3 separate regions of the Homo sapiens genome follow, and regions 2 and 3 are each linked to region 1. Evidence: fine-mapped expression QTL. A gene starts in region 1. Each other region holds a variant in brackets. All regions are shown on one strand. Distances are from middle to middle.

What was found. PIP is the estimated chance that this variant, and not a neighbour inherited with it, causes the effect.
Region 2: its variant is fine-mapped to the expression of ABITRAM in whole blood (TOPMed, PIP 0.97).
Region 3: its variant is fine-mapped to the expression of ABITRAM in whole blood (TOPMed, PIP 0.98).

The regions. Positions count from the first base shown.
Region 1 is chr9:108,932,860-108,935,713 of GRCh38, reverse strand. ABITRAM (actin binding transcription modulator) reads right to left here and starts at 1,314. Exons shown (of 6, transcript NM_017832.4): 1 at 1,149-1,314; 2 at 25-76. The coding sequence starts at 1,227. ELP1 (elongator acetyltransferase complex subunit 1) reads left to right here and starts at 1,590. Exons shown (of 37, transcript NM_003640.5): 1 at 1,590-1,850. RefSeq lists a silencer at 1,088-1,367 and an enhancer at 2,118-2,347.
Region 2 is chr9:109,018,588-109,021,441 of GRCh38, reverse strand. It overlaps TMEM245 (transmembrane protein 245), which reads left to right. Exons shown (of 18, transcript NM_032012.4): 18 at 937-2,854. The coding sequence ends at 982. Among named protein-coding and RNA genes, the nearest start is that of CTNNAL1, 6.5 kb to the right of the region's middle. The variant C/T (reference allele first, on the strand shown) is at 1,603.
Region 3 is chr9:108,910,576-108,913,075 of GRCh38, reverse strand. It overlaps ELP1 (elongator acetyltransferase complex subunit 1), which reads left to right. Exons shown (of 37, transcript NM_003640.5): 11 at 582-812; 12 at 1,896-2,066. Among named protein-coding and RNA genes, the nearest start is that of ELP1, 22 kb to the left of the region's middle. The variant C/T (reference allele first, on the strand shown) is at 1,512.

The sequences.
Region 1 (2,854 bases):
ATTTAAAATTCCCAATTTGCTTACCGGTTAGAGTGCTGTAGTATACAGTGGTCCTCACAAAATTTTCCTTTGACATCTAGAAGAATACATGAGTCTGTTGGTGGCTGAAATCAATATTTACTACCACTATGTGGTACTTTCTTTGGGTCATATAGTTGATAATGAAGACTGGACACATACATGCTGCATGCTGATCACGGGTATCCCTTCATTACTCAAAAAGACATACCTAAAGGTTTCCTAGAAAGTATTTAAAGAGATCTGGCCCAGATAGAATAATTTATTCAACATTAAGGTAATTAACTCCTTGCTCCATCTTACTTTACACTCACTTCAAAATGAGTACACGTAGTATTTTTGCTAGGAAAATGCAATTAGCATCCCGTTCTTTATGATATATATTTTTTGTTGGTGGTTTCCAGGACTGTCCTGATGTTGGTGCAAGTCCGACATTCTGGGAAACCCCTCAGTCATGGGTGAACTAGGACAGGTTGGTCACCCTATGTTTGGCCAACAGAAAATATGCTACAATATATATTTTTTAAACTGAGTATAACCATTATCACTGAATGAAAGGAAGAAAGGAGAGTCCCCAACGATGCTCCCACCACTGGTTCTGCTTACACAAAACAGTACAAAAAGAATACCTACTTCTAAGTGGCAGATGGCGTCTCTTAAGGTAAATGTATAGATTCTTCTTCTTTCTAAATGTCTCTAATCTAACCCACCCTCTTCTCGCCATCCCTACTGCCTCTACCTTAGTTTCGATCTGATCATTTAAATAATTTTATGTATCGCTACTCCCTGTGAGAGTGAGCCCCTCAATCCCTCCAGGCACTTAAGGACTGTTGCAACCTAGCCCTCCGCCTACCTTTGGGGCCTCCGTTTAGAGTACTCATCTTACTGCGAGCAACACCCTAGAGCTCGCACTGCAATCGCCGGCCCCAGAATGCGCCCTGAAGTATTTCAGGCCACCAGGTCTTTGCAAATGCCATTCCCTGGGGCTAGACGGAACACAGAAGTCCAGTGCCTTCTGACGTGGGGACGGAGAGCCAGGGAGAGCGCGCGTGGCTTATGATCTGTCAACATAGTCTACACAGCATTAGGCCAGTGCGGCCAAGGAGGGATCAACATCACTCCGCACTTACCCGGTTTGTACCAGCGAGTGAAGTATCGATCCACGAGCGAAGGCACCACCGGCTCCGCGGCTTCGGGCTCGGTAGCCATGGCGACCTCCGGCGCCGCCACCCCCGCCCTCCGGGACCCCAGCGCTTCCTCCGCGCAGCCCGGACTGGGCGTGCTCTTCCGGCGCACAGCGCGTGTCGTGCGCACGCGCGCTGCTCTCAGGTCCGCAGGTTCCACCCCCCCCCCCGCCCCCCCCAATTACAGTGCTTTGGGGTTCGACATCAAAACAGAGATCAAATACAAAAGTTTGGGCAGATGGGCAAGAGGGCAGAGGGACAGGGGACGCGGCCAATGTAGCTCCTCTACCTCTACGGTGCCAGGCCTACAAAGAAGGCCGGCCGCCGTAAGTGACCAGAAGCGGGCCCGGCCTCGCCCCCTCCGCCTGGTGACGTCACTCCCGCGCCGCACTCCCAGTGCTGCGGCTGCCTAGTTGACGCACCCATTGAGTCGCTGGCTTCTTTGCAGCGCTTCAGCGTTTTCCCCTGGAGGGCGCCTCCATCCTTGGAGGCCTAGTGCCGTCGGAGAGAGAGCGGGAGCCGCGGACAGAGACGCGTGCGCAATTCGGAGCCGACTCTGGGTGCGGACTGTGGGAGCTGACTCTGGGTAGCCGGCTGCGCGTGGCTGGGGAGGCGAGGCCGGACGCACCTCTGTTTGGGGGTCCTCAGGTAAGCGATCCATCCAGGGTAGGGGCACGGGAGTGGACCTCTCCGCCGGCGGTGTCCGGGTGAAGGAGACCCGGAGCCTCCTCTGCCTGCTGCGGGCCGGGGACTGGAGTGCGGGCTGCACCACCTCTTTCCTAGAGCCTTAAATTCTTTTTGCAGCCTTGCCACCTGCTCCATCGGGGGCGCTGGGAGGCGCGACAGCCCAGGGATGCCTGCTGCCCCTCCAGCCGGACTTAACCCAGCCTCTTGATTGCTTGCAGGGGGTTGATAATAACGCTGAAAGCGAGAGTATTAATTCACGATGGAAGGCGGCGGTTAATAGAGGCTCGGGTGCTGTGGTGCGGGTCCTTTCTCGCGTGTGAGACTTTTTCGTGGAGGTGGTGTCCTCTGTGCTTCTCCATCTAACGTGGTGTTTTACGTGGCTTTCTCTCCCGTTAACGATGATCTCCGTGGAGACAGTGGCTGAGTAATCTTCAGATCCCAGTACTTAGCAAGTGCTCAGTCGGTGTTGGATGTAGGCCACAAACCGGATCGTAAAGAATTCAACTGTATATTGACAGCCACGGAACTAATCAATGAATAGATCCGTATGAAGAGTAAGCAAAAAGGCAGCAAAGACAGTTTTTCAGCTTGGGGACATAGAGTAGAAATGGTCTGTCCCCAAATAGTGGGAACTGTCATTTGGGGGAAGAATAGCAAGTTCTTTGCTTTCCAGGTCGCATTTGATGTGCATGTGAGACATGCTTGTGATTCTATCAGGAGGTTGAAAATGTGGGTTTAGTGGTAAGTTTGGGCTAATTCAGTCAGGGCTAGGCATTTAGGCCTAATCAGCGTATTGGTGATCTACCTGGTATATGTAATCATGCATGTGATGTCTAGCCAAGAGGTGGATAGTCGAAGGAGCAAGGGAAGAAAATGAAGCAGTTATCAGGAAATTAAGAGAGAATCCACGATTGACCTTTGGTGTGGAGGGATCTTTAGCACATTTAAGAACTGCGAAGAGTTTG
Region 2 (2,854 bases), 86 kb before region 1:
TAAAGGAGCAATATAACTTCTATCTAAAAGAATGGTAATAGACTGTGCTTTATATCTGTATCACTGTTGCATAAACATCTGGTCCCAGCCTCTCTCCATCCTGATGTACTGCCAGCCTTGGTGTGAGGCATTTTTGTCTAATATGGGTGCTTGAGCTCATGTTCATTGATAAATTCTGACCTGGCCATTTGGCTGCCAGCACAGATGTAAATTTAGCCAGGTGATTTATCTCAGCTCAGACATGTAAATTATGTAGCAAAAGCAAGCTAGCTACTACAGTACTGAGATAGACACTTCATGTATGCAGCAGTCAGGCACGGTGCTCAGCCACCTTCATCCAGCCCAGATATTACCCGCCAATAACATTGTTCGCTTAGCTTGTTTAATGTGGGTCAGAAACAGTTCAAGTACAAGGTCACTTGATGAAAAGACCTAACCCATTTTTCCTGCACTGAACCACATCCCTTAGAGCTTGGACTCTCTGTTGGATTACGATTTCTATTTTGTAATAAAATGTATCCACTTAGCATTTAATCTTTGGTCTCTTAGTGGTTTTTCCTCTTTAACATCAATCATCATATCCACTTCCAGCCAGTAACAAGGTGGAAGAGCTGAAGAAGATTGCTCTTCTCTTTTAAGGAACTGCCCAGAAGTTGCACAACACTTCTACTTAAATCTCATTAACCAAAGCGTAGTCACGTGGTCATGTGTAGTTTCAGGGGAGTCTGGGGAAACAGTCCTTTGGATAGATCCAGCAAAAAGATGGAGTTCTTGTTAATGAGAATGAGCAACAACTAGCAGACTTTGAAACAATACTCAATGAAAATCTTAAGAAAAAATAGTGACTATATAATCTCATTAGGGCTCCAAAAGATTGTAAAAATAGGATACTGTTTTATGGTAATCAACTAATCATTCCGTCTTTTTTTCTTTTAGGACTTTCCGTGACATTTCTGAAGATCTGAAATCTTCAGTAGGTTGATGTGGTTTCCTCTGCAGTGATTTTTCTAGGAAGTTCAAATTTGACAGCGAGTTCAGCTCAGCTGTGGCCCTCTGCCCTTCCAGCTGTGCCTAGCAAGCAAAACCCAGGAAAGAAGCAGAAGCCTCCTGGCCTTACATACAGAATGCCTGGACAAGAGAGAACTTGCTGCGGGCTGCTTTGTATTTTAAAACACAGCTTGAGAGTTCAGAGTTGGTGGTTTGCTCACTTAACTGTTGTTAAGATGGCTTGAAAAGTTTCATTTTATACACTGGTACCCTGGCTTGAAATTTTTCCACTTTGGTTATCTATGTTACTATATTATATATTTATAAAGTTATTTTAAGAACTCTAAACTACCTGCTGTTAAAAGAATAGATGGTGTAATTTTTTCCTGGTTTAAGAAATGTATTGTTAAACTTTTCTAAGACAGTCACTTTTCAAGGAAGAGGGCTTTCACTTTTGAGTGTGTAGTTGAGTGAGCAGGAAAAATGAATCTTCTACCCTTCTCCCACAATGTATTATACGCTCTTTAAGAAATAATAAATCATAAGTATAAGGGTGGGGTGGCTTATTTGATGTTCAGTTTTATATTATAACCCTGGGAGATACAAAGACTGAAG[C/T]TCTTCCTCCTCTTCCTTTTCTCTTCACGCTTCTTTACACTATTGCCAAATTATAAAACTTGGCTGACCACGTTGAAGTGAAATACTTATTAAGCTGCTATGAATGGTAACAGTATGATAAAATTCATGCTGTTATTAGGTTTTCTCCTTCCAGGTGGTTGAAGTGAAAAATCTCAGGTGTAGCAATACTCTGATTTGTTAAATGTATCCGTTTCATTATTTGGAACTCTGCCAATAAGTTAGTTTTCAGCAGAATTTTGTATTTATGTAGTATTTTCCCATCTCTTAGCACAGTGCCTTGCACATGACTCTAAATGAATGCTTGTTGAATTGAATTGCAACTTTAAAAATATCTCAGATATCACAATAACCAGCATAGTGCTTTACATTTTACAAAGTCCTTTTGCACATACTATTTCACAAGTACATCACATCAGCTTTCATATAGCTTTATATTATTTTACATCAGTTTTACACTGATGGAGAAGCTAAGGTTCAGAAAAGTGACCAACTCAAAGTCGTAAAGTGTAGTAGGATTTGGCCTCAGATCTTTGACTCCGTTGTGTGCAGATTCTGCTGTATTAGTGTTCCTTCTAAATATTGTATGCAGTTTTCCCAGTGTTACGAGATTGGTGTTGCTATCCATTTGTTGTGAATGAAGACTTGTCCTATAGTACATGACAGGGCTGAGAGTGGACTGTAGTTCTTAGCTGAACCCTTTCTACTGTTTAAAACAATCATCAGGCCTATCCTCTGCTCCCAGGGGAATGTGGGAGAGAAAAGGGTTCTTGGCCAGGCTGTAGGTGGTGGCTCACATCTGTAATCCCAGCACTTTGGAAGGCTGAGGTGGGTGGATTGCTTGAGCCCAGGGATTTGAGATCAGCCTAGGCAACATGGCAAAACCCCATCTCTACAAAAAAAAAAAAAAAAAAAAAAAAATTAGCTGGGCACGGTGGTGTGGCTATAGTCTGAGCTACTCAGGAGGCTGATGTATGAGGATCACCTGAGTCCAGGAGGTCGAGGCTGCAGTGAGCCAAGATGGCGCCACTGCACTCCAGCCTGGGTGAGAGAGTGAGACACTGTCCCAAGGAAAAAAAAAAGTGTTGGGGGGTAGTTCTTAAGCGTTGAAGATTTCCTTTTTGGAAAGTATTTAAAGGTAGAAATATTAATAATTTTTCCTAAAACATCTCCCTAAGAAGTCACTGATAATTATAATTAGTTTAAATTTATTCTTACACTACTTAAGAAAAAT
Region 3 (2,500 bases), 22 kb after region 1:
TGAAAATAAACATGTGGGCCAGGCACGGTGGCTCAGGCCTGTAATCTCAGCACTTTGGGAGGCCGAGGCAGGCGGATCACAAGGTCAGGAGATCAAGACCATCCTGGCTAACACGGTGAAACCATGTTTCTACTAAAAATACAAAAAAAAAAAATTAGCCGGGTGTGGTGGTGGGCGCCTGTAGTCCTAGCTACTCGAGAGGCTGAGGCAGGAGAATGGCATGAACCCGGGAGATGGAGCTTGCAGTGAGCCGAGATTGCGCCACTGCACTCCAGCCTGGCCGGCAGAGCGAGACTCTGTGTCAATAAAAAAAAAAAAAAAACGAAAATAAACATATGAATAAAAGTTAAAAATAGAAAAAAAACAAGAAAATAAACATATATTTCTGACCTTATTGATTCTTGATATTTTATCTGCATGGAAAGCTATTTTTTGGCAGTTATTATTGTTCTTATTTTAGAGACGAGGCTGAGCAGGAAGGGTCCTTTGAAAAAGAAAAGATTGCCCTTGAACCCCTCTGGCAAGTGGGATGAAGTCTGCTTCCCAGCCTCTAACGGCCTTCTTTTCATTTTCCCTTGCAGTTCAGCTCTGGACTGTTGGAAACTATCACTGGTATCTCAAGCAAAGTTTATCCTTCAGCACCTGTGGGAAGAGCAAGATTGTGTCTCTGATGTGGGACCCTGTGACCCCATACCGGCTGCATGTTCTCTGTCAGGGCTGGCATTACCTCGCCTATGATTGGCACTGGACGACTGACCGGAGCGTGGGAGATAATTCAAGTGACTTGTCCAATGTGGCTGTCATTGATGGAAGTAAGCTCCTGGGAAGTGTGTCCATGAGCCTGCAAGGGGTCCTGAGCCTAGGGCCTGCAGATGTGGTGGTTTGACTGGAACAGTGGGGAATCTTTATTTGTTTTGGCTGTTTGGGTTACTTGTTTTTTTATTGAATGGGATATAAGGTGGGGTATGTTCTCTCCTGAGAACCATTGTCCCCCCTCCCCCACCAGTTTCCTGTTATACTGCATCTGTGGCCTTCACACGTTTACTTGCCTGGCCTTTGAAGACACTGAAAACTTTGACTCTAGGTAGAGAGGATGACAACAGTACAGTCTTGTGGGATTGGGTGTGTTAGCTTTATCTGTTTGCCCTGACACAGATTTATAATTGACCCTTATACCACCCCACTTGTGTTGCTTTGTTTCCTGATACAAATGCTTGCTGATATATACCTCTCCAGTATGTTCAGTTCATGCATAAACGTTTGCCTAATATGAAGATTAGGTTTATATTTTATAATGAGGTAGAAGGTTTTTTTAGGGGGTGGGGTGGGAAGGGCAAGACTGAAGAGTGAAGTAGTCACCTTAATGAATAGTTTCATTGCTGATATGAAAGGGAGCACTGGCTTCTAAGATTGTAATGTGAGGTGGTATATTAATTCATATTCTGTGTAATATTCTACATAATACTGATTTTATAGTCATGTATTCTATATAGAGAACTTAATCAGATCTG[C/T]GTTATTACCAAATCCACACATAGGAAAGTGCTTTAAGGATTTTGAAAGTATTAATTCCCTTGGTTTAGTGTGGCTTGGTTGCAGGCCCAGGTTTAAAGCTAGAGGTCTGACCTCTTGGCCTTTTTGCCTTAGTCCCTGGCACCTGAAACTCCAGGTACTGAGATGGACTCCCCTAGGCCTAGAGGTGACAATAGCCAATTATGGACAGAACCCATGACATTTCCCCATCCCACACTGTTTTTAGACTTGTTCCTGAGAAAAACATTGAAAGTTATTTTTTTGTGAATTGCCATTATTGTTTAGATATACTGTGATGTTCAGATGGCTTATCTTACAAATTGAATATCCCTAGGTCTAATCCTCTTCTTTCTTTTTCACTGCAGACAGGGTGTTGGTGACAGTCTTCCGGCAGACTGTGGTTCCGCCTCCCATGTGCACCTACCAACTGCTGTTCCCACACCCTGTGAATCAAGTCACATTCTTAGCACACCCTCAAAAGAGTAATGACCTTGCTGTTCTAGATGCCAGTAACCAGATTTCTGTTTATAAATGTGGTATGTTATAAAACTTTTGCCAAGATGTTCTGAATCAAGTCCCTTCTACTCCTACATAAAAGCAAATTATAGTTTGGTGTTGCCATAGGTCTAGTGTTTCTCAAAATTTTTAAGTCTGCAGTTGATATCATTATCATTATGATATTTAATTGCCTTGGGTTTTTGTTTTTTTTTTTTTTAATCCTATACTGGTTTGTACGAGCCATTCCTTTTCCCTTACTGACTTGAAGAGTCAGTTATTTAAGAATAACATTGGACTCTGGAAATAACATAGTATGTTATACATTGTTAACATGTTTTACTCTTTTCATAGCCTTTACACATATTTTCAGTTGATCTCATCCCTCCTAGGAGCTGTGTCAGAGATGGGGTTTTCCTCTTTTGTAGATGAGGGAACACAGTGTCAGAGGTTTTGTAATTTGTTTGAACAAGAA